Linked DNA regions of Homo sapiens. The protein of the gene in region 2 interacts with the protein of the main gene of each other region in a biochemical or structural test. Each region holds a gene or a part of one and is shown on either strand. Other genes may lie near its edges.

Region 1 (7,034 bases), on a different chromosome or scaffold from region 2:
ACAATGCACTCATCCATGAACAGAGGTCACGGCAATACAGATCCTCTTCAACGCGCATGCACACGACACCCCTCCTAGCACCCATCAACACCTACGGCATGCACACACTGCAGTGCCCACGCACACACTGACTTGTATATGGCCTGCCCAGTGACAGCCCTCGGAAGGCACCCAGTGACTTGGGCTCCCCTGTGCTGAGGACCTAAACTGGGAAGGTGGCCTATAGCTGCAGGCCTGTCCAGGCTGCACAGCTCACCTGGTGGCTCCAATAAAGACTCTGATGGGTGTGGGGAGAGTAACTTTCCTCTTAATTTCAGAGAGGCTTTTGCTGTTTCCTGTCTTTTTGGTTGAGACAACCTGCTACCAATTAATGCCCAAACAGAGTATTGCATCCTCCCAGAGAGCACTGATTCATGACAGAAGTCAAGCTGAGTTATAGCAAGTAACTATGACAAAAAAGAAAACCACCTGGCGCTGAGCACTTGGTCTCCTTAAAACAAGTAACTTGGTACGCAGCACTTGCTCGGTTCCCACATGCCAGCTGCCAACTCTGATAAAAAAGCACCCCTTGCTGGCCAGGGGCATTCCACACGTACCAGGAGGGGCAGCACGTGACCTCACGACATTTTTAAAGTCTCCTGCATCACAGGTGCCCACACCACCACTGCTCCATATGGGAAAGCAGGACAGCCAGAGGGCTGTGCGACATCAGGCAAGTCACTGCCCCTATCTCTATTCCCAAGCTATCATCAGAAATGATTGTAGAAGCGACCCCACCTACCGTCCATGCTGCTGTGAGGATGAAACGAGGTAACAGAGGAAAGCGCCGCAGGAAAGCATATCTGGACCCAGGTACTGTTTCTGCATTACTTTCAACAGGATGCACTAGTTTTGGCTCTGTTTTATCACTAAGCAGCTGACATTACCCAGAGGATCCTTGACTATGCCTGCTAAGGAACTCTATGAATTAGTGACGGGGGTGTGTGTGTGTGTATGTGTGTGTGTGTGTGTGTAAGAGAGAAAGGGCATTGTGTGAGGACTTCTCAGGATGGTGGCAGGTGCCCATTTTCCTAGGGTTACCATGAAAGTTATTTCTCACAACAATCACTGCACTGAAATTATAATAATATAGTATTTTCATAGCCTCCCCTAACATGTAGCTGTAACCTTAGTAAAAGATTTGATCTATATTACACATAATTACTCACCCAGAAAGAGCCAACTATGAGCTATCCATGGAAATGAAGAAATAACACAGCAAATTCTCCAAACTGACAATAATCCCCAAATTCCCTATCAGTTGGCTTCGGAATATGTTTTTGTGCTTCTGCACCTGACAAAAGAAGCATCAGATATGTGGAAATTTTTTAAACTTCCAAAGGAATTAGAAGCTACACTTTGTGGATTTTATCCCATATTTATCTTCCCTCCTTTTAGAGTTACTCTCAGGCAGATCAAAGCCTTAACCTGAGGAAAAGCTGCAAAAAGGGAAATTACTTTTAAATTTTCAGCTTCAAGTTGTAAGGGTGTGAGGTGAGTCTGCATGTAGTAAGGTGAATGGGGAGGGGATTATTAAGATAAAGAACTGTTGTGACTTTTAAGATCTCTTCCTTTGAATTCCCATTGTGTGTCACAGAGGAATTAAGAAAAAGTTGATGACTGATCTTCTGAAGGAATGCATGCAGAGAAGTAAGAACAACAAGGACTGTGCAAAGATTGGGCTGATGGTAAGCACCAGGAAGGCCAGCAGGGGCAACTGAGGACTGACTCCATCCACCTGCCTTCAGTGCACAGTCAAACAGCAGGCAACGGGATAGACGATTAAGTTGAGGGAAGGGGAAGAGTGAATGAGTAGGGGAAAGGCTGGCAGGGTGTGTCTGAAGTTGGGTGAGAAAGTGTGGCTGACAGAGAGAAAGAACCTCAGAGGGAAAGCAATCCTCAAACTGGCCCAAAGATCCCCATAGTCGGCAGAATCTTCTTGTACCTTCAAGAAAATGGTATACAGAATCATTTACTGGGCCTTGGGGTTCCCTGGTTACAAGGTATTCTTGTCAATGACTAAAAATCTCCAGGCCACCAAGAGAGGTTAATTCAGACCCCCATCTGGAGCTCTGGGTAGACCTGGGAGGAAGCTGGAGCCCTGGAATAGCAGAACCTTTGTGCCACCATCGCTGAACAGGAGAAACCACCAAGGGCAGCTGTAGGAGCTCTGGCTCCAGCACTTGACAGGACAAAGACAGGAGATGGGAGAGAAGGGCTCAGACCACAGCCTTTCTTTCATGACGCTTCAGTACATGAGCTGTCCGGAGTAAAAAAAAGGGCTGCATGGCAGTGACAGCTACAGCATGACCTGGAAGACCTGAGAAGATTCAGGGTGCACGTTGAGTCGTGCTACACAGGATGAAGCTGGGGGAGGTCTGGGAGATTTCCAGGGCTGAGGCGGACAGCCTGTACCACGTTGCATTTTCTTAGCAACTCCCCAACTTACAGCCTATCGGATGCTGTTAGATTCTGACACATTTGGTACGAACCAAATGGCTATGACTTAATTGTGCATTGAAAACCGCATTGACAACCAGGAAAAACTGGGAGAATTTGATGCAATTGGTAGTGTTTCTGGTTGATACTGCAAATAAATAAATAAATGTATTCAAACTGAATAAAGCAATACATGATGTAATAAAAATTACTTAAACTAATTATAATACAAATATAGTAGGACCTTCTAAAAGCATGTACATAAATCATGTACATTTAAGAAAGGTTACAGCTACACAAACTTGTGATTTTACATTTGATTAATCCTAAGGAATTGACAGGCACTACACACTGGTCTTTCCATCAGAGAATGGACTTACTGAGTAACTGCAGCTTTTTCTCTCTAGAATCTAAGGGCTGAGAAGAGAGAATTTTAAATGTGGAGGAGATGTTAAGAATCAGTGTCCAACTCTCTTATTTTATAAACGAGGAACTTGAGGCCCATGTAAATTAACAGACAGTATTTATCTTTTAATAACAATCTTTATCACTGATATGAAGCTGTTTGACTTCCATAAATATTGCACATATTTTAATAAGATTTATAGACCATCTAACAGTTAAATTTATATAACCTATGATTGTAATTCAGAACCAGAGTTTCTAATGAAAACTAATAATTTGCTTTTGTGCAACCTGAAGGATTTATTGTATAAGATTCCTAAGAAAAATGGTGAATATGTTTAACTAGAATTTCAGAATGAAAACTTACAGAATCTGGGTCTTAATGAACCAAATCCTCTGTAAAATTCAACAATCTTCTATTTCTTATATAAGTCTTCTTAAAGTATTTCTAATATGATGCTTTTAAAATTATCTAGTGGCATCTGAGAACACTTATAGAAGCTGCAAAGCCTTAAAAACTGAATCATAATGAAATATTTATTATATACCTTCTTTTGCATAATCAAAGTTTCAAGACCTGAATCGTGAATATTCTGACAATCCTCTCTAGATAGTGAGTGAGATTCTTTTTTTTTCCAAGGCAGTGTCTCTCTCTGTCACCCAGGCTGGAGTGCAGTGGTTCGATCTCATTGCAATCTCCGCCTCCCAGGTTTAATCGATTCTCGTGCCTCAGCCTCCCGAGTAGCTGGGATTACAGGCAAGTGCCACCACGCCCGGCTAATTTTTGTATTTTTAGTAGAGACAGGGTTTCGCCATGTTGGCCAGGCTGGTCTCCAACTCCTAACCTGAAGTGATCCGCCCACCTTGGCTTCCCAAAGTGCTGGGATTACAGGCGTGAGCCACCGCGCCCAGCCGAGATTAATTCTTAATAAATTAAGAAGAGAGAAAACCTGTCAAGGTTGAAAATATGCACTGAAGGAATCAGATCTGGTAGTTAAAAATAAGTCACTTCACAGAACACTGTACCCTGACGCAATATCCACCCAGGGAAAATTAATGAGCACATCAATGTAATACATCCTGAATAAATAATGACATCAACAATAGCCACTTTGTCTAATCCTACCCCTAAATGTCAAGCATTTTGTCATATTACTACATGACTTTCCAGTGTCTGCTACTTGTGCAGGTGAATCTGTAGGTATTTGCATATAATCCAGTTAAAACTGTGATCTGATTGAATTGTAAACAGAATTGACAAGAGAAACTTATTGTAGTGCCTAATATCACTTACATTTTAAGAAGACAGTATGTAGCAGCAATTTAAAATGCTCAGTAAACTATAGTACAAATGGACATCTATACTATTTAGCAAACCAACATTCCTTTAATATCTCTATATCATAGTGACACAAATGAGGAATTACTTTACATATTGCCAGTTTATTTCTTTGAACCAGTTTAACAATATCAACATAATTGATTACTAAACTGACATGATATGTACTCAATGGAGACTTTTCTTTCCATTCTCCTGTTTAGTGCAGAGGAGGTTCTTTGGTGCCTTCCTAACAACAGCTCATCTATGGAAGTTATACTTTTTATACCATTCAAACTCAGTGCTAAGGATTTAAAATAAATGCTGCCAGCTGAAGACACATTTTTCTCCTCCTTTCCTTCCTCCCTTCCTTCCATCATTCTCCTGTATGTAAACTCACGGTACCTAGTTGGTTAAGGATGAGTGTTGCTATAAAGATAACACAGCACGAAAGAGCCTATCTTTGTTTCCAAAGTGATGAAAGTATTCTAGGGAGATTTCCAGTTAATGACTTCTCATTTGGGAGATAATCAGTACTTTCTCTTTAAAAATGTATTTTCAGTAACTCACTGGAAATAATGGGTTCTTATTTCGGGCAAGAAATGTATTGTCAATTTTTGCCTGGACATCACTTTCAGACCCGTGAAATGAAGCCCAGGCCGAGGCTGGCTGGAATCTGGATGGTTTCTAGTGCGAGGGAAGATGGGTTGAAAGGAAAGGTGACAGGAAAGATGTGTTTAGCATCCATGAGCAGCTGGGGAGAGTCTTTCCTGTCTCGTAAACGCATCTGAGAAGATTAGGAAAAAAAATAAACAGAGCATCAGTTCTTTGAATCTAAAAGACTTTTTTCTACTAAAATTTCTACCCTCAAATTCTCAACTAATGAAGAATGTTTACTTTTGTTTTAAACTCACTTCATTTTCCCAATTAACTATTATCAAAAAAGTTAGTGCATTGTAAAATAAGATAATAAAAGATAACACATTATCCTTCAATAAATTACAAAATGTCCATTCAAAAGACTGTGTTGGTGAATCAAAGAAGAAGATGGGAGCTCTTACCTGTATAGTACGAATGAACGACACAGAGACTCTTTCTTCAAACTCATTAACTGGAGTATACAAATTCAACACTTTCACAATCTGTGAGAAATGAAATGATCAAAGTTTTTGGCATATTATCAAATACACACTGGGTACCTATAATCTGGAAAATTAAAAGGATCTGTGCGTACAGATTTCAGTTCTACTCAGGGGTGGGCTGGGACCAGAAGGAAGGAGGAGCTGGTCTGCACATTTACCTTTATCTGAATTTTTACAAGAGAATGTATCAATGTAATGTTTGTGTAATATTGTAAGAAGCTGTGTAAATTTCGAAGATATTCAAATAGCACAAGAGAATAAAACATGAAAAATAAATGTCCGCACTTCCATCCTTCCAGTCTCCCAAAGTGGCAATTGTTAACCATGTCCTGAACACCCCCTCTAGCTGCTATAAATATTCTAGTTCATTTTATTTTTATACAAATGGGATTCATTCTATTAATACTATTCTGCAACTTTTCTCCATATAAAAATGTTAGCCGTATTAATACAATTATCTCTTTTGAATGTTTTTTAAATCATATTTTTATAAAAGATCATAAATAACATGAATAACAAAAGCCCCTAAAGAAATTAATCAATTAGAGAGTATGAAGTTCTTTTTTAAAAAGTTCAATAATTTTTTTTTGTAAAATGGTCATGTCTCTTTTCTAATGAAAATAAATCATCGTCTATATAAGGTAGATATTTCCATTTTCAAGGTATTGTCTAAACCTGTGCTGTCCAATACAACAGTAGTAGTCACTAGCCACATGTGGCTATTAACACAAAATGAAAATAAAAGTTGAATGCAGGACAGTGCTGATCTATAGGAAAATAAATTAAGCACCAGAGAACTAGAAAGTGGGCATGTTGTTATCAGGTCTGTGGGTGACAAACTGAATTAGGGATCAGTCTCTCGGAGGCAAGTATTTGAATTTTAAAAAGTGGGACCACTTTGTTAACTAATATTTGCTAAATAAATAAACTGCAGGTCTGCCTCACTCTGTGAAATATGCTTAAAGTATATTTAAGTATTAAAGTATATTCTTTAGAAGTTGAATGGCAGCCAACTTCTATAAAGTTGGGCTTCCTCCAGGGTATTCTTACTTTCCACACTTGCAGAAACTGGGAGGAAATCTCAGGACCATTGTTCTGTCAGATAGTTCTGCTTTATTCTTAGTAAGAAGTTATGCAAACATGAATTCAACATTAAGAAGCTGCAAGTCTTGATTCTGATTGTCTACTGATTGACTTTTTTTTTTTTTGAGATGAAGTCTCTGTGCAGTGGCACAATCTTGGCTCACTGCCACTTCTGCCTCCCAGGTTCAAGTCATTCTCCTGCCTCAGCCTCCCAAGTAGCTGGGATTACAGGCACCCGCCACAATGCCTGGCTAATTTTTGTATTTTTGTAGAGATGGGGTTTCACCATGTTGGCCTGGCTGGTCTTGAACTCCTGACCTCAGGTGATCTGTCTGCCTCAGCCTCCCAAAGTGCTGGGATTACAGGTGTGAGCCAGCACGCCTGGCCTACTGATTTTTTCTGTTGCCCAGGCTGGAGTGCAGTGGTGCAATCTTGGCTCACTGCAACCTCCGTCTCCCAGGTTCCAGCAATTCTCCTGCCTCAGCCTCCAGAGTAGCTGGGATTACAGGTGCCTGCCACCATGCCCGGCTAATTTTTGTATTTTTAGTAGAGATGGGGTTTCACCATGTTGGTCAGGCTGGTCTCAAACTGATTGAGTTTTAATTGTA
Region 2 (2,945 bases):
TACAAAGTAAAATACAGGTGACACCGGTCGGGTGCAGTGGCTCGCGCCTGTAATCCCAGTACTTTTGGAGGCCGAGGCAGGAGGATCACATGAGGTCAGGAGTTCGAGACCAGCCTGGCCAACATGGTGAAACCCCATCTCTAATACAAATACAAAAATTAGTTGGGCGTGGTGGCATATGCCTGTAATCCCAGTTACTTGGGAGGCTAAGGCAGGAGAATCACTAGAATCCAGGTGATAAGAGTTGCGGTGAGCCGAGATCACACCACTGCACTCCAGCCTGGGCGACAGAGCAAGACTCTATCTCAAAAAAAAAAAAAAAAAAAAAAAAAGTTTTATATGTGAGACTGGTCATTCATTTCTAGCTCTTTAGCCTATACATTTAATATCTGCGGTCCAAAAGGCTGCAAGACATTAGGAAACAAAATATACATAAATATAATGACATATCAGTCACTATTCTGTCAAGACAGAAGGCCTGAACTCAGCCATGTAAAATCAACCTAACACTTAAGTTTTAAGAAAGTCATTACATTTCAAAAAATTTTCCTCTTTATTTAAACATAAAACGCATTTACAACATGCAAGTTAACTTAAAATTAAACGGTGTCTTCCCAAACCAAGTATTTGTGAATGTATCTTCAAGCACTGAAAATAAACCAACATATTCCACAGGTAGACTCAGACTCTCTTCTGTCACCTCATGTCAAATGGAGTTAAGCACAAACTGAGAGTTACGCACAGTAGTTTTCTTAAGTTAGGCAAATAATTTAATTAATCGCCATGAATAAATATTCTCTTTATTTCATTGAGTTTCTCTTCTGAACCATCTATCAATGCCATTCAGAGGAACGTTAATATATCCAGTCAAAAAGACACTGCAAATTGAAATGTGTCAATATCCTAGATGATCAGAAATTTTCATTTTTAAGAGTAAGTGCTGTGTTTAATGACCTACCATAGCAAAAAGCAGTTCACTGAAAACAAATTTATGAAATTCTTGGTACACTTTATGAAAGTCTGAAATTATAAATAGAAAAGAACCATCAAGATACTTTTTAAAAACCTAACATTGTATATTCTGAACCACATGCTAATTAAAATTCGTTGTTCATTACACAGCACCAATACCCATGATACATCTTACAAGAACAAAACTAACATATTTGGAAAAAAGAGAAAAAAAAATTCTGCTTCATTTACGAATGTTGCCAAAGGAGGCAAGTTTTCAACTGAAAACAAAACATAAAGGTCTATGTGGATGCAGCCAAATGTTTCTCCATTTAGAAAATCATCATAAAAGGTGGCAGCACTTTTTTTGCTTGTTAACTATATTACTTATAACTGGCTGCACCAACATTTCATCTCAATTTTTGGAGTGTTTCTTCTGATCAATCCTAAAAGCAACACAATCATTTTAGAGGTTGCAGACTACAACAGCAAAGATTTTTGACTATTAAAAAAATAAATAAATAAATTTATATTTTAAATCAAAATTATTACAAAAGTGGAAATTACAATAGTTACGGAAATAGAAAAATAAGCCAATTATGATCTGAGTCTTCTGACTATGGCTCCAAATTTAATACAAATATCTGTGTATAAAACTTTTGCAAAAAGTTAATTCTGCCAGCAAGATCCTAACACAGAACTTTCCAAGTTTCTCTGCTAACCTTAAATCCCCATTCTCTGTGAATTTCTGCTAACACAGTTGCAGTCACCGCCCCCCTACCACTGATGAAGCAAATAGTGAAATCTCTTTCCCTATTACTTTTACAGTTTCCTAAAATAAGCTGTTGACTTACTTTAATCATCTGAGGAAAAAGTGGCAAAAATACGTATACACTTAGTACTGATTACAAAATTATCGGCTATGGCCAAGAAAATAATTTATCTAATGATTATTAGTGACTTGCAAACAATTTACTATTTCTAGACTAAAGAAATAAATTAGTGTACAAATTAGTGTAGCAGGTTAAAAACACCTCAGGGATTTCAGACCAAAATTGACCTATATATATTTTTAATTCATCATATATCTGTCCTGTTTCTTCATTTTTCTCAATTTCCACACGCTATAAATTTAGGTCGGCCAATAAAGTACTAACCGTATAAAATTATGTTTAATCCTATAATATCTTAATTCATTTTACTAATATTAAAGATGACAAATTATTACCTGTCCAATACTTATATTAGCTAGCAGGCTCACCAGAATAAAGCAGAGTATTTTAATTCCATCAAGACTTGTTGAGTACAGAATCAGGAAAAAGAGAAATATAATTCCTTTTCCAAACTCCCTTAAACTAAGATCTGCTTTTGATACTTTAAAATATTTCTATTCAAAATAACTCGGCAACAGGCATTTCATGAGATAACAAGTAGCCTTGCTCAGTCTCAAATGCCTATTAGGCATTTGTAACGTTTCAGTGCTCAAACAGTAGTTTTCAGGAGCAAACTTCAGAAACAATACAAGTAATTTTAACCCTGATATCATCATTTCAAGGGATTTTAAAATACAGTACTGACTGGATATATTTTATGGGCATGTAGTGTTGTTAAGTGGTAAAATTTAAAGACATTTAACCTAAATGTTCCATTTTCTCTTAAGAAAAAAAAAGGAAGACGTTTTAATAGGAAAAGAAAAACAAGAAGCAGTAGCAGCTAGGTAATTTAAACTGAGATTAAAAAATAAACATACACAAAAAATACAAAAAGTACAGTCCTATAAGGTACAGTTAGCTTGGCACAGTAAAGACTAAATTTAAGACACGATAGACAAACTGTGTAATAAATAGGGCCACAGTTGTAAACTGTCCTTTTTCCCTCCTAAGATGCCAAAATTGCACTCTAGTTGTGTTGGGAAGCAGCAGAGTTTACAAGAAGAGTAGGTAGGAAACAGCTGTACAGGCCAGGTATAATTTATACATTTTTTTTAAAAGTTA
Region 3 (7,508 bases), on a different chromosome or scaffold from region 2:
TGGCCAGGCTGGTCTTAAACTCCTGACCTCAGGTGATCCACCTGCCTCGGCCTCCCAAAGAGCTAGGGGCGATCTGCAGCCTCAGCCTCCCAAAGAGTTAAGATTACAGGCATGACCACGCCCGGCCAACAGTGGCTCTTTTATCAAGGTATCGCTGACTACTCAGCACAGTACCTGCCATTCAGTTGGTTCCCAACAGACATTTAAGACCAGTATTTGCAATCTTAATGTGCTTGTCACTTTTATTCTATGCCCTGAAATTTGACACTTAAATCTTCCCAAATACTCTCGTCTTGAGTATATTACTGATCATTTCTTTGCTACATAAAATACTGGTTTCAGCCCAGGTGCAATGGCTCACACCTGTAACCCTAGCACTTTGGGAGGCTGAGGCGGGTGGATCGCCTGAGGTCAGCAGTTTGAGACCAGCCTGGCCAACATGGTGAAGCCCCGTCTCTACTAAAAATACAAAAAATCAGCCTGGTGTGGTAGTGGGCACCTGTAATCCCAGCTACTAGGGAGGCTGAGGCAGGAGAATCACTGGAACCTGGGAGGCGGAGGTTGCAGTGAGCGGGGATCACACCACTGCACTCTAGCCTGAGCCACACAGTGAGACTCATCTCTAAATAAATAAAAATAAAATACTGGTTTCTAACATTCCACTTATCTACAAAGAATGTTTTCAGGTGATACTAATCATACATTTCACTCAACTTTTGATTTTTCTATCCTAGGTTTCTTTTTATACAAGTATGTTTTAAGATAATTTATGGCCCTATACAGAAAGTTACACATTGACTTTTTTCCAACATTGAGAAACATGCCTAAGAATGTATAAATTTTAAAAATGTATAAATTTGGGCCAGGTGCGGTGGCTCACGCCTGTAATCCCAGCACTTTGGGAGGCCGAGGTGGGCGGATCACGAGGTCAGGAGATCAAGACCAACCTGGCTAACATGTTGAAACCCCATCTCTACTAAAAATACAAAAAATTAACCGGGCGTGGTGGCGGGCGCCTGTGGTCCCAGCTACTCAGTAGGTTGAGGCAGGAGAATGGCGTGAACCCGGGAGGCGGAGCTTGCAGTGAGCCGAGATCGCGCCACTACACTCCAGCCCGGGCGACAGAGCGAGACTCCATCTCAAAAAAAAAAAAAATGTGTAAGTTTAAACGACTGCAGTTATTTGCTATGAAATACTGAAGATACTGTGTGCCTCTCCCCAGTGTCATTCCCTCCCCCCTTGCTGGAGATAAACGCTGTCCAGAGTCCTGTGCATGTCTGGATGCTTTTCTCTAAGACAATGCCAAGGCTGCAGTAGGGTTAGAGGTTACCACCTGGGTCCTCCACAGCACTCAGTGCCAGACAGGGCTGCCAGGCTCAACTGCAACATGATGCTGCATTCTTTGATGACTTGGAGAGACACTGGCTCTTTAGAGTGCCTACCCTCCCACACAGAATTCCATACAAGTTGAAATATACTTCATACTTAGTATCATTGTATTCCTACAAATATTTAGGAAACAGAGCAATAGGTCAAATTTCTCACCATAACAGGCTTGCTGACAATCCCTGAAAGAAGCAAGGCCATGTCTGTAATATAACTTCAGGAGGTTCTTCCAGTTTTCTAAAGTGTCTTTCACTAAACTAGTGCAATGTATTCCGAGCTGATTCTGATCAATGGCTTAGTCATGCCGTACCAAAAAAAAAGGCCTTGGGATTTAACTAATGCAAAGAATCAAAGCTCTAACTGCCCTTTTACAGAACACCTGAAATAGTATATCTCAAATTTTTTGTTCTCACATTTTTAAAAAACATCATTTTTGTAAGTATTCCTTTTCAAACGCTTAATATGTAAATTCTTAATTCATTTAAATAATAAAACAGTAACAGGCAGCAACAATTCTAATACAAATATACCTAGAAATGACCTACAAATGTTAAGTTATAAAACCATCCACTCCATCACGCATTAATTTCACTACTTTTACGCTTTATTTTAATTTTCTTAAGGAAAAGGGTACACCCAATTTTACATGGAAAAAGCATTCCAGGACGGAGGCTGCTTCAAGTTTAGTTGGAGCAACGCCAGCCTAGGTGAACAGGGTCGCCTGAAACGTTTCGCATCTGGTTACTGAAAATAAGGGGTCGCCAAGGAGGCAAAGCGGAGCCAGCTCTCGGGAGGGACCCGGCCCCCCGCCGCCCGCGAGAATGACAGGCGCGTCCGCTCAGGGCGGTGCCGGGAGAGGCGGGGGTGGAAGGAAGAGGAGGAATCGGACAAAGCCAGCCCCGCCGGGCCTCCGGCCTCCCCGCCCGCCGCGATCCCGGGGTCAGCCACCTCCCCTGTCGCGGGTTCCCGGGGTCCACAGCTGTCCCCGGGAACGGCCGCCGCCGCCCGCAGCAGGGCCAAGCCGGGGATGCGGGGCCAGGGCGGGGCCCTGGGCAGGGCCGGGGACCGGAACCTGCAGTGGGACGCGGATGGGGAGGACGCGCGGCGCCGGGAGCCGGGGCTGGCAAAAGGGCCGGGGACAAGAACCCGACCTGAACCTGGAAGGGGTCGCGGACCGGCCGGGGCGGTGAACTGGGGCGGGTACCGGGGTGGGAACGGAGAGGGGCCGGGACCCAAACCGGGAAGGAGGCCTGGATGGGGACAGAGTTACGGCCGGGGCGGGTCCGAAGAGGAGCGGGACAGGGACGGGGCGGAGGATGAGGAGGGGGCCGCGGTCCGGGGCGCACGCCGGGGACTCACCGCCTTGCTCCTGAGGGCCGCGCTCTCTCGCGCTGTCAGCACCTGGAGCGCCGCCGGGCGCGCGCGCGGAGCAGCGACTGTGCGCCGAGCCCGCCTCGGCTGTGTGAGGCACGGCGCAGCAGTCACCAGCTAGGGGCGCCGGAGCTACCGCCCCGCAGCATCCTCGGCCACCCACGCGCTGTCCCCTTGGCCGCCGAGCACAGCCCCGCGGCTCCTCGCACCAGCAGCCCAGCCGACCCAGCCAGTCCCGCTCGGCCGCCTGCGCCGCTCCCGCCGCCGAAAATGGCGTCTCAGTGTTGCTCCCCCCGGCGCCCCGCCTCGCCCCGCCCCACAATGCCGCGCGCCGGCATGACGTCATCGCCCCTCGCCCCGCCCGGGGCTGGGGAAACTGAGGCTGGGTGGCTCCCCGCAAGCGCTCGGCGAGCTGGGGACTGGAGGGGCGAGAAAGTTGTTTGGGTATCAGGTGGGCGGTCACAGGGAGGAGGGTGACGGTGCAGGACCCAGCGGGCCTCCCGGTTGTAACGCGGACGGGGGTGGGGCGCTCGGGGCAGGGCGCGGCTCGCGGGGTGGGCGGCCAGGCCCTGGCCTCTCCGACTCCGCAGCCGCGATGACCGAGCGCTTCGGCAGCTTCCCTTCCAGCCGGACTGTGGGCCCTACCAGAATGCGGCCGGGGACGGTGCAGGCCCGGCCGCAGCCGCCACCACTGGGCTCCCGCCCCACCCCACTCCCAGGCCCGCGAGCTTCATGCGCTCGTTTCGGTCCCCCCAAAACCCAGCTAGGAGGCCTTCGGGAGGCCCCGGAATCAGATGATCCCGGCCAGGCCTTTCTCCCTCCTCCAGGAAAACCGACAGCCTTTGGTCGAGACCCTGACCTCTAACCCTGCGCCCTCCCCTTCTCATTATTCCCTCTCCTCGGGGCTTTTGGACCCTCGTATCTGTACGAGGAAACTTTCCAGGCGCTCCCCCTCGACACAAACTGCGCCTCAGACGGGCAAAGGGGAAGGGCCGGGGTGTAGACTGTGAGGGTGGGAGACAACCCCCCTCTGTCCCCACGCAGCCACCGGCGCATCTCCCTGGCTGCAGGGCCTCGACCTCCAGCCCGGCCTGAAGGGCAGCGGAGCGCGCCTGGGTCAAGTCCTGCGGCTTCGCCGGCTCCGCAGGCCTGACTCAGCAGCCAGCCGGGAGGGCATGCTGATTCAATGGGCGAGGCTCCGCTCGCTGCTGCCAGCGGCTTGGGAAAAACCCTCCCAGTGCCTGCAGACGTCCCAAGTGCGGGGCCCGGAGGCATCATTTAACCTGGAGGGGTTCCTGGGCCAGTCCCCCAGCCCCATCTTGTGAACTGCTGTTCCTTTCCGATGTTATCACCCAGCACCAGCAGCCCTTTGTGAACCCTGCAGTTAGGCCCCGCAGTCACCAGAGAAGCAAGTGCTCCTCGGTTTTTCCAGGGAGGTCTGGTTACTTTTATCTCATTTATAAAGACAAAGGGGGAGCTCCTAGGTAACACGGTAGGGTTGGCCCGGGGAGAGGCACTGAGTCAGGGTCAAACAAACTTTCTCCATACCACTTTCAGGTTAGTGATTTCAGCCAGACTGCAGCTTGGATGTCACTAAGTTCAGCCACTGGGCTGGGCACCGCCAAGCATCGACTGCTCATTCTTTCTGTGCCGCTGCGCCCAGTAACTGTCCCCTCTGCTCACCCACAACCCTAGCCAGAAACCTGGGATGCCTGCACCGCTCCCTTACGCCCTACTACAACAGGTGGAAAAGATTCTACTTCCTCAATATTTCTTTGAGTTAGGGTATCTTTGTCACCCTGACTGGAGGGCAGTGGCAATCAGCTCACCGTAACCTCGAACTCCTGGGCTCAAGAGATCCTCTTGCCTCAGCCTCCCAAGTAGCTAGGGACTACAGGTGTGCACCACCACTCCCAGCTAATGTTTTTTAAATTTTTTGCAGAGAGGAGATCTTGCTATGTTGCCCAGACTGATCTCGAACTCCTGGCCACAAGTGATCCTCCCAGCTGGCCTCCCAAAGTGCTGAGATTACAGGTGTGAGCCACCATGCCCGGCCTCTCAGTATTTCTTGAATCCATCTCCACTGCCACCACTTTGTTCTGGCTTTATTACCTTGTTCTTTTATTTCCTCAATAAATATTTGTTGCTCTCCCATGATCCTCATAACAGCCAAGGATGCATAGGTGAACAAGATAGATAAGATCTCTGCTTTCTAAGAGTTTACATTCCAGTGAGGAGAAGTAGGCCATAAACACATAAGGAAATACCGGATCTTGCCGAGATGATGGAACAGGCAGAGATGGAACAAAGATGATGGAACAGGCAGAGTCTAGGTGGTCAGGGGTGAACTCAGAGGCAGGCGGGTGACCTGAGACCCAAATGAGAGGAGGGAGGCAGGCGTTCAAAGCCCCAGGAGAGGCCGGCGAGGTGGCTCACGCCTGTAATCCCAACACTTCAGGAGGCCGAGGCAGGTGGATTGCCTTCAGGAGTTCAAGACCAACCTGGGCAACACAGTGAAACCACATCTCTGCTAAAATACAACAAATTAGCCAGGCGTGGTGGCGCACGTCTGTAGTCCCAGCTACTCGGGAGGCTGAGGCAGGAGAATCGCTTGAACCTGGGAGGCAGAGGTTGCAGTGAGCCAAGATCACACCACTGCACTCAAGCCTGGGCAACAGAGCCACATTCTGTCTCAAAACAAAATAAATAAAAGCCCCAGGAGAGCTCTGAGGGCAGGAGTCCTCAGGCAGGAATGACCCTGGAGTGTTGGGGGAAAGGAGAAAAGGCCAATTCATCCACCAGTGCTGCCACGCATCACTGTCTGCAGCAACTTCAAATTCCTTGGGTTGGTCAACAAGGCCCCCAGGGCCTGGTGCTGCCAACCTCCTGGTCTCCTGTGCTCTGAACACCCTTATCTGTTCCTGAGTTCACCCTGGTCTCTCACATAGCCATGCCCCTGTACATAGTATTCACTGTGCCTAGAATGTTCTCCCTCCCCCATTCCCCCCAGTGCTCCAGGATTCAAATGATCGTCACTTCCTGGGGGAAGCCGCTTCTGACAGCACCTGCCTGGGTCAAGGCCTCCTCTGACCACCCACCTGTCCCTTCCCCAATGTGTAGTATGTGGTCAGCTTACACAGCTGCCTTCTCCTCAGCCTGTAAGCAGAGAACAGGAGGGGCTGGTGTCCTCTTCCCCACAGCCTGCTCAGCACCTGACGCAGCTGCAAGGGCAACCCTCAAGCAAGCATGAGAGGAGGGCTGGGCTGCTGCTTCTCCAGGCTTCCTTTGCACAGAGATGCTGCTCTTGCTCCCTTTTCAAGGGGAGCAGACTCTTCGGGTCCCTTAAGTCCCTGACTTCTGCCATGATCCTCAGGAGATCCTGCAGTCCTTGGAGCCGTTAGCAGCTCCTAGGTTGGGCTCCTAAGGTACTGCCTGGGGTTAAAAGGCATGGACAACCTGGGCAACATAGTAAGACCCTGACTCTACAAAAAAAATTTTTTTTAATTATCCAGGCATGGTGATGCACCCTTATAGTCTCAGCTACTCAGAAGGCTGAACTGAGGTGGAAGGATCACTTGAGCCCAGGAGGTCAAGGCTGTAGTGAGCTATGACTGTGTCACTGCACTCCAGCCTGAGCAACAGAGTGAGACCCTGTCTCAAAAAAAAAAAAGGAGGGGGGGAACTACCCACCTTCTGCCATTTGCCAGGCCCCTGGGACATCGGAGGCAAGCATAGAGCCTACAATTTTTCATATTCACGTCATTCTCAGTATTCATTGAGAACTGCTAGTATCAGGTGCCAGGCTGGGCAACAGAACCGGGTGCCCTGGACAAGTGAGCTGACGGCCAGCAGGAACTAAGATGAGAGGCCTGAAGAAGTGCAGAGGGGAGCCCTGCGTCCCTCGGGGATCCAGGAGATGAGGGAGAGGGACACTCCCGTGGCAGGTGGGGGGACCACAGGAAGGAAGTGCAGTGCCCACATGCAACAAACCATGCAGTCCCGTTTGTCTCAAGTGGAGAATGGAACAGGAAGTTGTTATTTTTTACACTATTCATCTTTTTACTGTAGATGTTTGTAGATGTCTGTCTTTGCGAGCGGCTTTTTGGAAGAGACAAGCAGGCAGGAATTTCCCTTTGGTTCTTGAGGATCTGCAGCCTTGTGGGCAGCCCTGTCTGTGAATGCCTGAAGAAAGGAGGGAGGAAGAGGGTGGGGAGGAAAGAGGGAGAGAAGAAGAAGGGCAGGGTGGAGGCAGCCTGAAGCCTGTCCCTGGCTGGCAGCTGTACTCAGGTGCCCATCCTCTGGCTGGGAGGGGTGACCTGGCTGGAGGGGCTGGGGCGGGGGAAGCACAGGCCATGGGAAGAGCAGGCTGGTTGACTCCACACAGCTCTGACCCCTCCCCGCAGCCTGCTCACCCTCCTTGTCAGCACGAGGCTTAGGGACGAGTCACCGGACGGGCGTGCTGGTCCAGGGAGGGGCTGCCTGGCATCCGGACCTGGCTAATCTGGGATCTGGCCCGCGTTGCTCTCAGCCACAGGTCACACCCTCTCTGGTCTCAGGCTTCAATTCTAAAAATGCAATTCCTCTGATTTCCAGGGTGTTTTTTCCTTTCTTTCTTTTTTTTTTTTTTTTATTGAAACGGAGTCTCACTCTGTTGCCCAGGCTGGAGTGCAGTGGTGCAATCTCGGCTCACTGCAACCTCCGCCCTGCAGAGTTCAAGCAATTCTCCTGCCTCAGCCTCCCGAGTAGCTGGG
Region 4 (7,811 bases), on a different chromosome or scaffold from region 2:
CCGGGATTCAAGCGATTCTCCTGCCTCAGCCTCCTGAGTAGCTGGGATTACAGGTGCCTGCCACCACGCCCAGCTAATTTTTTGTATTTTTAGTACAGATGGGGTTTCACCATGTTGGTCAGGCTGGTTTCAAACTCCTGTCCTCAGGTGATCCACCCACCTTGGCCTCCCTAAGTGCTGGGATTACAGGCATGAGCCAACATGCCTGACCTTTTTTTTTTTTTTGAGATGGAGACTCACTCTGACGCCCAGGCTGGATGGAGTGCAATGGTGCGATCTCAGCTCACTGCAACCTCTGCCTCCCGGGTTTAAGCAATTCTCCTGTCTCAGCCTCCTGAGTAGCTGGGATTACAGGCGCATACCAACACACCCCGCTAATTTTTGTATTTTTAGTAGAGACAGGGTTTTGCCAAGTTGGCCAAGGTGGTCTCGAACTCCTGACCTCAGGTGATCCACTCGCCTTGGCCTCCCAAAGGGTTGGGATTACAGGCATGAGCCACCACGGCTGGCCAGTTTTTCTTTTTTAAAAATATTTTTTGTAGTCTCAACTACTCGGGAGGCCAAGGCAGGAGAATTGCTTGATGAACCTGGGAGGCAGAGGTTGCAGTGAACTGAGATCATGCCACTGCACTCCAGCCTCAGTGACAGAGACAGACTTCATTAAAAAAAAAAAGAAAAAAAAAATATAAAATGTGTGTGTGTGTGTGTGTGTGTGTGTGTGTGTGTGTGTGTATTTTGTTTTCTGTAGAACTGGGGTTTTGCCATGTTGCCCAGGCTGGTTTTGAACTCTTGGCCTCATGTGATCCTTCCACCTCGGCCTCCCAAAGCTCTGGGATTACAGGCATGAGCCACTGTGCCAGGCTATTGGTCCCTTTTTACAAGTGACTTGCCGGAGGGTACTCAGCTGGTGCACTGGCAGGGTAGGATTCGAACCCAAGACAAGAACCACGTTCTTTCTCAAATCACACCACACACGTGTGTTCAGGAACCCGGGGGGGGGGGCGGTTTGTTCTGTTCCCCGAGTGAGACCCTGTACCAGGTGAAGACCCAGACTTGGCTCCTCTACTGGGGACCTGCTCTGAGCCCTGAGGCAACAAAGTGTGTTTGACATTAACCATTGACCTCCCTCACCTCACTCAGGTGCTGTCTTTGACGTTGTTCAAAGGCCCTGTTTATCGATAGGACGTAGAGCCTTGGGAGTAGGTGACCTGTCGCAGGTGGTGACCCTGATTTTTATTGATGAGGCTCTTGGGCGTTAGCAACTCTCTCCCAAGGGCAAAGAAGATGTGTGCTGGTAAGAGTGTGTAGGCCACATGGTGGGAGGCTTATGTATGCTTTGTATAATCTGAGTGACCCCAACAGGGAGTCACACTTTGAGCTCTTCTCAGCTGACACCACGGGGCAGTGTGAGGCCCTCAGACTTGGGTGTCTGATGGATCTGAGTTTGAATCCTTGCTTTGCCCATTCCCAGCTGTGTGACTTTGTTTAAACCATGGGACAGCTCTGTGTCAGTTTGCTTATCTGTAAAACGGGAAGGAGGCCGGGCTCAGTGGCTCACGCCTGTAGTGCCATCACTTGGGAGGCCGAGGTGGGTGGATAGCTTGAGTACAGGAGTTCAAGACCAGCCTGGGCAACATGGCAAAACCCTAGCTCTATTAAACAAACAAATTTTAAAAACTGGCTGGGCGCAGTGGCTCATGCCTGTAATCCCAGCACACTGGGAGGCCGAGGCAGGAGGTACATTTGAGGCCAGGAGTTCAAGACCAGCCTGGCCAACCTGGTGAAATCTCTATTAAAAATACACACAAAAAAATTAGCTGGGCTTGGTGGTGCATGCCTGCAGTCCTAGCTACTCGGGAGGCTGAGGCAGGAGAATAGCTTGAACCTGGGAGGCGGAGATTGCAGTGAGCCAAGATTGTGCCACTGCACTCCAGTCTGGGCAACAGAGCGAGACTCCATCTCTTAGAGAAAAAAACAAACCAAAAAAAAGACTAAAAAATCCATTTAACAGATGAGGCACAAGAGTTTAAATAATTTTCTCTGAAAAAATTAGCTGGGTGCGGTGACGTGCGCCTTGTAGCCCCAGCTACTTGGGAGGCTGAGGCAGGAGGATCGCTTGAACCTGGGAGGCGGAGGTTGCAGTGAGCTAAGAGAGCACTATTGCACTCCAGCCTGGGTGAATGGGTGAGACTCTATCTCAAAACAAAACAAAAGCCAACAAACAAAAAAACAGGAAAGGAAATCGGACCAGCCTTACAGGGGTATCTTGAGGGAAAAAAAAATGCACGTTTCTGCAAAGCACCTTGCCTGGTACTAGGAACATGGTAGATGGTTCCTTAGAGTGCATGAGGATGGGGTCACCAAGGATAGGGCAGTGTGTGAAGAGGGCTCGGGACAAAGCCCTGAGGAACCCTAGTATTTTGGGGTAGGCTAGAAGACAAGCCCATACAGCAAATAGAAGAGCAATGGCCGGAGCAGCAGAAGGGAAGCTGGGAGAGTCGGTCAAGGAAGGGTGAGCAGTCGTGCCCAGTCCAGCCAAGAGGGCCAGGGAGGTGGGCACTATGAAACCTCCTTGGCTTTGACAACAAGGAGGGCTCTGATGGCCACGGTGGAGGAGTAGGGACAGGGTGAGAGCACACTGAGCTGATGGGTGGGTAGGAGGTGAGGAAGAGGAGATGAGGAAGTTTGGTGAGAAGAAAAGCTTCATGGGAGAACCAGAGTGTCCTTTACACATGTCAGAAATCAATTATTTAGAATGCTCCAGCTCTACCTAATTTTCACTGTTTTGAAATCAATCTTAGTCCAACCTCATCAGAAAAGCTGGAAGGGCTCTAAGCCCTCTAAGAGCTAGAAGGAACCGAGGAGGTCCCCCCATCCAGGGCTGGCCCTCCTCCCATCTCTCACTGGGACCCCATCCTTATGGGGGGTGGAGTGGATGATTCATTACTATCTAGCATGCTCTTTAAATATATTCACTAGGGGAAAGATTAGCCTGGTTTGTTAACCTCGATTCCAACAGCAAAAGTGACTCTTCAAAGCATGGTGAAGCCTGGGGTAGTGGCCTCCTCCTAGACCCACATTCAAATCCTGTTTCATGGGCCCCCAGAAGTGTGATCGTTTCAGCATCATAGCAGGAAGAGGAAGGCCTGGGAGGCAGGAAACCTGGTATGGAGACCCCAGCTCTGCTCACTCGCTGTGCAAACTAGGGCCAGCCCCTCCTTTCCCTCAGACCTCAGTTTCCCGTTATTCAGGATAAGGGGTTAGACAGGGGTGATTCTAAGGGTCCTGCCAGCTCTGACATTTCAGCATGTGGATATCTATTCTAAAGTCCTTGAAACAGTTAAGTCCAATTCTCCAGATGGAAAACAGGTCCAGAAAAGGCCTGGTCTCCAGTTCCCTCCCTTCTCCCTTCGAACATGTCTTACTCTCTAGAGCAAGATTCCAGGCCTGAAATATGGCTTCCCAATTACCTAAGGATGAAGCCTCAAATCTTTGGCCTGGCATTTAAAAGACTCCGTAATCTTGTTTTACCCAACCTCACTTCCCATTCTTAGGCCTCTCTTCTCACCATCTCCCAGGTCACTGCCAAGCCTTTGCCAATGCTGTACCCCAGGCCTTAATCTTTTTCCTGACTCTCCTTCAAGATCCAGCTTATCCCTGTGGGCTGAGCATGCAGTAGATGCTCAATAAAATTCTCAGCGAGCCCAAGGCCCCCTCTCCTGCACTGCCCTTGGCGTGTTGAAATCAAGTGGGGGCCTTGTTTTAATCATCATTTTCCTAGCTTGTCGGGCAGCCCAGTCCAGGGCCTGGCACAAGGGACCCTCAGCATCCAATACCAGCCAGGATTGGGAGGGGCTCAGTGACCAGCCAGTTGGGCCACCCCAGCTCTTTGCCACAAGAGAAAGTTCAGCCTGGGTTTGGACTCAGATCCTGGCCCCACCACTTACAGGCTGCGTAACCCTGAGCAAGTCACTAACCTCGCTTTTCCTCAGGTTCCACGTTTTAAATATGGGGAGACCAGCTGTGCCCACTGTGGGCTGGGTAGTGAGGATTAAAGAGGAGGATGCTTGTACGGGACTAGCACTGGGCTGGCTCCTAATGTGTCCTGAATATTACTTGTCCCGCCCTGGCCACCCAGTCCCCTCCTCTGGTGGAAGGCACAGCCTGCCCAAGGCTACGTCTCAGGTTGGGTTCGATTGTGTGTGTCTGTGTAGCGGGGCTGTCCCCGAGGGTCGGACTCGATCCTGCCCGGACCAGTACAAGGTGTGGCCCAGCAGAACGCATGGACAGGCAGGGCTCGGGGCGGGCGGGACGGCTGGGGCGGGGCTGGGCGGACCCGCCCCTCGGGGCACGCGGTCTCCCGGCTTCTCCGCCAGTATGTTTGCTTGCTTTTGGGGCCCTTCTCAAGCCAGATCTCTAACGTGGATGGAGTGGCGCGTTTCAGGGTGGGGCTATGACAATGCACTGCCTGTGCAGCCGCCATCACCGCGCCCCCTCCACCGGCTCCGCAGTCTCCTGCCCGGCTTTCCCTTCTCCACCTCCATCTCTGCGGCGGTAAAATGCAGCACTCGCAGAGCGCCTGCGCGGCTTTCAGGCCGGGCGGCGGCGGCGGCGGTGGCTATTTATAGTAGGTGACGTCACCTTGAAATAGACCGTTAGGGCCGGCCCGCCCTTCCCCCCTCCCACTCCCGCCGCTCCCCGCCGCCCGGCCTGGCCACTCTCACTGCGCAGGCGTCGTCCCGTCCTCCCATCCCCCAGCGCGGCCGCGTCTCCTCCCTCGGCGTTGTCCGCGGCGCGAGCCACAGCGCGCGGGGCGAGCCAGCGAGAGGGCGCGAGCGGCGGCGCTGCCTGCAGCCTGCAGCCTGCAGCCTCCGGCCGGCCGGCGAGCCAGTGCGCGTGCGCGGCGGCGGCCTCCGCAGCGACCGGGGAGCGGACTGACCGGCGGGAGGGCTAGCGAGCCAGCGGTGTGAGGCGCGAGGCGAGGCCGAGCCGCGAGCGACATGGGGGACCGGGAGCAGCTGCTGCAGCGGGCGCGGCTGGCCGAGCAGGCGGAGCGCTACGACGACATGGCCTCCGCTATGAAGGCGGTGAGCGCGCCGGGAGCCCGGGCGGCTGGCCGGGGGGGGCCTGGCGTTGGGGAGGGACGGGGATGGCCGCGGGCGCGTTCCCCTCCCGGCCATGGGCGACCCGGCGACCCGGCTGGGCGTGGCCGCCCGCCCGCCCTTAGCCCGCGCTTCCCGCTCCCGCTGGGCGCCCCGCCACTTCCTGAGGCTGGGCCCAGGGTGGGGGATCCGGGAGGGTGCAGTTCGGGATCGCGAAGGCAGCCCCGGAAGGGGGGCGGGCCGGTCGGGGTCGCCACATCTTAGTTCGGAACCCGGCCGGGGGCAGAGGGTGCCCTAGGGGACGCGAAGGAGCCGCATTTCTCCTAGAGCGTTTCACCGGACCCGGGGGCTCCCCCTCTCGTCTTCCTCCGTTCCCCAACTTGGAATAAAGAATCACCTAGTAAGTGGCGCCCTGTCTCAGCTGGTTTTCTCTGCCACGACCTGAAGTCTGCAATTCCGATCTGTTTTGCTCTGCTCGTTCGAATTGTTCTGGTTCCATCTTCCCACGCCTGGGGGTCTGGCTTTGTGTGCGAAGACCCCTTTCCTGCAGTCTAGGCGTGGACGGGGGCGGGAGAGTGGGCGGAGGGTGTGGGGCCCCACTCCACAGCCCCAGGTTTGCTGCTGCGCTGTCTGCTTGGAGATTAAAATGAAACGTGACTTCTAGGTGAGACGAATCTGTGTGTCTTTGCATTCCTGAGACCCTCATAAATCGATTCTGCAGCTTCTCCGGTGGATGAGTCGTGCCCAGCCACACCCTAGCAAAATACCGTGGGTCACACACCACCTGCATTTCTGAGTTCCGGTTACCATCTCACTCTCTCTCCACGTTATTTTACGTTTTCTGTAAATGAATATTTCCTCTCCCTGCGTCAAGGTCACACAGTGGTAGAACAACTGCGACCACCAACCTATGTTCAGTGTACAACCTCCTGAGACCTGGGAGGATCCCCTTGAACTCCGCCTTAGACCTATACATTCAGAAATTCGGGCGGTGAGACTCAGACATCTGCATTGTAACCAGCTCTCACAGGCGATTTTTAGCTGGCTTAAGTCTGAGAATTACTGCCCATGATTATAGTAAATGTATCCTTTGCTGGCCTTTTGGAGGGAGTTCCGAAAAAAAACTGCCAATACAAAGGCTCCCTAAAATCTTAAGTCATTTGGAAAGCTCATTTGAAGGCTTTTGATGTTAATATCAGATGAAATATGTAGTTGGGGCCAATATTTAGGATTGTTCAGGTAAGAAAGGTGCTTGAAGAGTTGCCTTTCCTCTGGTGTCCTTGTTACACACATAACTGGGTGTGTTTGGAAACCAGCAACACCGTTGCCCGTATGTTGATTTGTTGGTGATCTTGACTTGAGCACTATTAGCATGCTGTTGTGGTGAGGCAGGTTTTCTTCCAGACCGGGGGACGGTCTAGGTCTGGAGGCTGAACTTTATGTAATTCAGGGGGTCCTTTAAAAGAAAATCTAAAATATAGTTTTGCATATTTTACAAAAATGGGACTGACGAATGCATTTCCTTGGAAGGGACCCTGAACCTTAATTTTCTGTGGGATAAAGCTGCCTCTGTCCACAGCAGGTCACACTTAAGCCCCTCCTCCCCAGTAACTGAGTGGTGCTGGGATTATGCAGGCTGAGGCCTCTCCACACATTTTCATGAAGTGGTTGCTCACCCTCTAAGTGAGACGTAAAGACTGCAGTGTTCGGAGCCCTTTGGGAAATAAATGTGGTGAAAAGAAAGGAGGGACGAGGTTTAAAGGAAGGGGAAATGGAGGTTAAGGAAAAATGGCTAGAAGGTGTGTTCTGGAACAATCAGAAACCTGAGGCAACTTGAAATGGGGGAAAAAGGCAAGAATGGAGAGATGTTACCAGAACGAAATCTAGTTTGAGCAGAGAAAAAGACTGGCTTTCTAGTAGGCTTGTAAAATGCTTTCCTGCAGCAAGCTACTTGTGTCCATAGATCTTCTCTGGAGGGTTAAGGTAGCCTTTTGTAAACCAAAGGAATCTATAATATCTATATTTGAAATAATTAATGAGTTGGAAAAGCCACCCAGCGTAGAAGAGTCAATCCAAGCTTTAATTCTGCCATCTCAGAATGGTGATAAACCATTTCTCCCCCATCATCTAAATGGAATATATTGTGCTTATAGGTATTTTCTTTAAAAGAAAAAAAAGAATATATTGGAAGGGACTGGCAGGGGTCACTTTCCCTGCTAACTTGGTGTTTGTAGATTAAATTCTTAATGTTACTGGGATGACTCAGTCTCTATGTTATTAATCTCATCAGCCTTAACTAAGGCTTTTGGAAAGGGTGTAAGTTTCAGTAACCCTCTGGGTTTACCTGGGCTTTCTTCAGGGCTGGGGAAGGGCAGGTAAGTAGCCTGCTGTAGGGAGGATGGAGCAGGACACATGTGTTAAGGATATATTCTGATGCCACCAGTCTGTAACCTTGAAACTTACATCTTGGCTTTAGGTCCTCTGAAGTATAAAACTAGTGATGTTGCTGTTATTAACAAGTCAGTTTTGCCTTCAGTCTTCTAACTTGTTTTCTGTTTCCTTCATAATTAAAATGCTCACTTGATAATACTGCCTTCCTGTAATGATTGATGTTCCTCATTCTACCAGCGTCACCTGGAGGACAGTGTTGGTAAGCTTGAAGAAAAATCGTGCATACTGGAAACAATGGTCTTGCCTCAAACCTGTTGA

Evidence for each region.
Region 1: the proteins of KIF5B (region 2) and MYO5A form a complex in vitro, tested with the Homo sapiens proteins (one study listed by BioGRID).
Region 3: the proteins of KIF5B (region 2) and KLC1 form a complex in vitro, tested with the Homo sapiens proteins (one study listed by BioGRID).
Region 4: the proteins of KIF5B (region 2) and YWHAH interact in far-western blotting, tested with the Homo sapiens proteins (one study listed by BioGRID).

Annotation. Positions count from the first base shown.
Region 1 is NC_000015.10:52,308,861-52,315,894, forward strand, and holds part of MYO5A (unconventional myosin-Va), read right to left. Parts: intron 5,344-7,034; coding exon 5,263-5,343; intron 4,989-5,262; coding exon 4,836-4,988; 3' UTR 1-4,835. UniProt on the Homo sapiens protein: Processive actin-based motor that can move in large steps approximating the 36-nm pseudo-repeat of the actin filament. Can hydrolyze ATP in the presence of actin, which is essential for its function as a motor protein. Involved in melanosome transport.
Region 2 is NC_000010.11:32,008,481-32,011,425, forward strand, and holds the end of KIF5B (kinesin-1 heavy chain), read right to left. Parts: 3' UTR 535-2,945; downstream 1-534. UniProt on the Homo sapiens protein: Microtubule-dependent motor required for normal distribution of mitochondria and lysosomes. Can induce formation of neurite-like membrane protrusions in non-neuronal cells in a ZFYVE27-dependent manner.
Region 3 is NC_000014.9:103,624,732-103,632,239, reverse strand, and holds the start of KLC1 (kinesin light chain 1), read right to left. Parts: upstream 3,030-7,508; 5' UTR 2,746-3,029; intron 1-2,745. UniProt on the Homo sapiens protein: Kinesin is a microtubule-associated force-producing protein that may play a role in organelle transport. The light chain may function in coupling of cargo to the heavy chain or in the modulation of its ATPase activity.
Region 4 is NC_000022.11:31,939,734-31,947,544, forward strand, and holds the start of YWHAH (14-3-3 protein eta), read left to right. Parts: upstream 1-4,801; 5' UTR 4,802-5,000; coding exon 5,001-5,087; intron 5,088-5,100; exon of another isoform or gene 5,101-5,633; intron 5,634-5,766; exon of another isoform or gene 5,767-5,945; intron 5,946-7,730; exon of another isoform or gene 7,731-7,811. UniProt on the Homo sapiens protein: Adapter protein implicated in the regulation of a large spectrum of both general and specialized signaling pathways. Binds to a large number of partners, usually by recognition of a phosphoserine or phosphothreonine motif.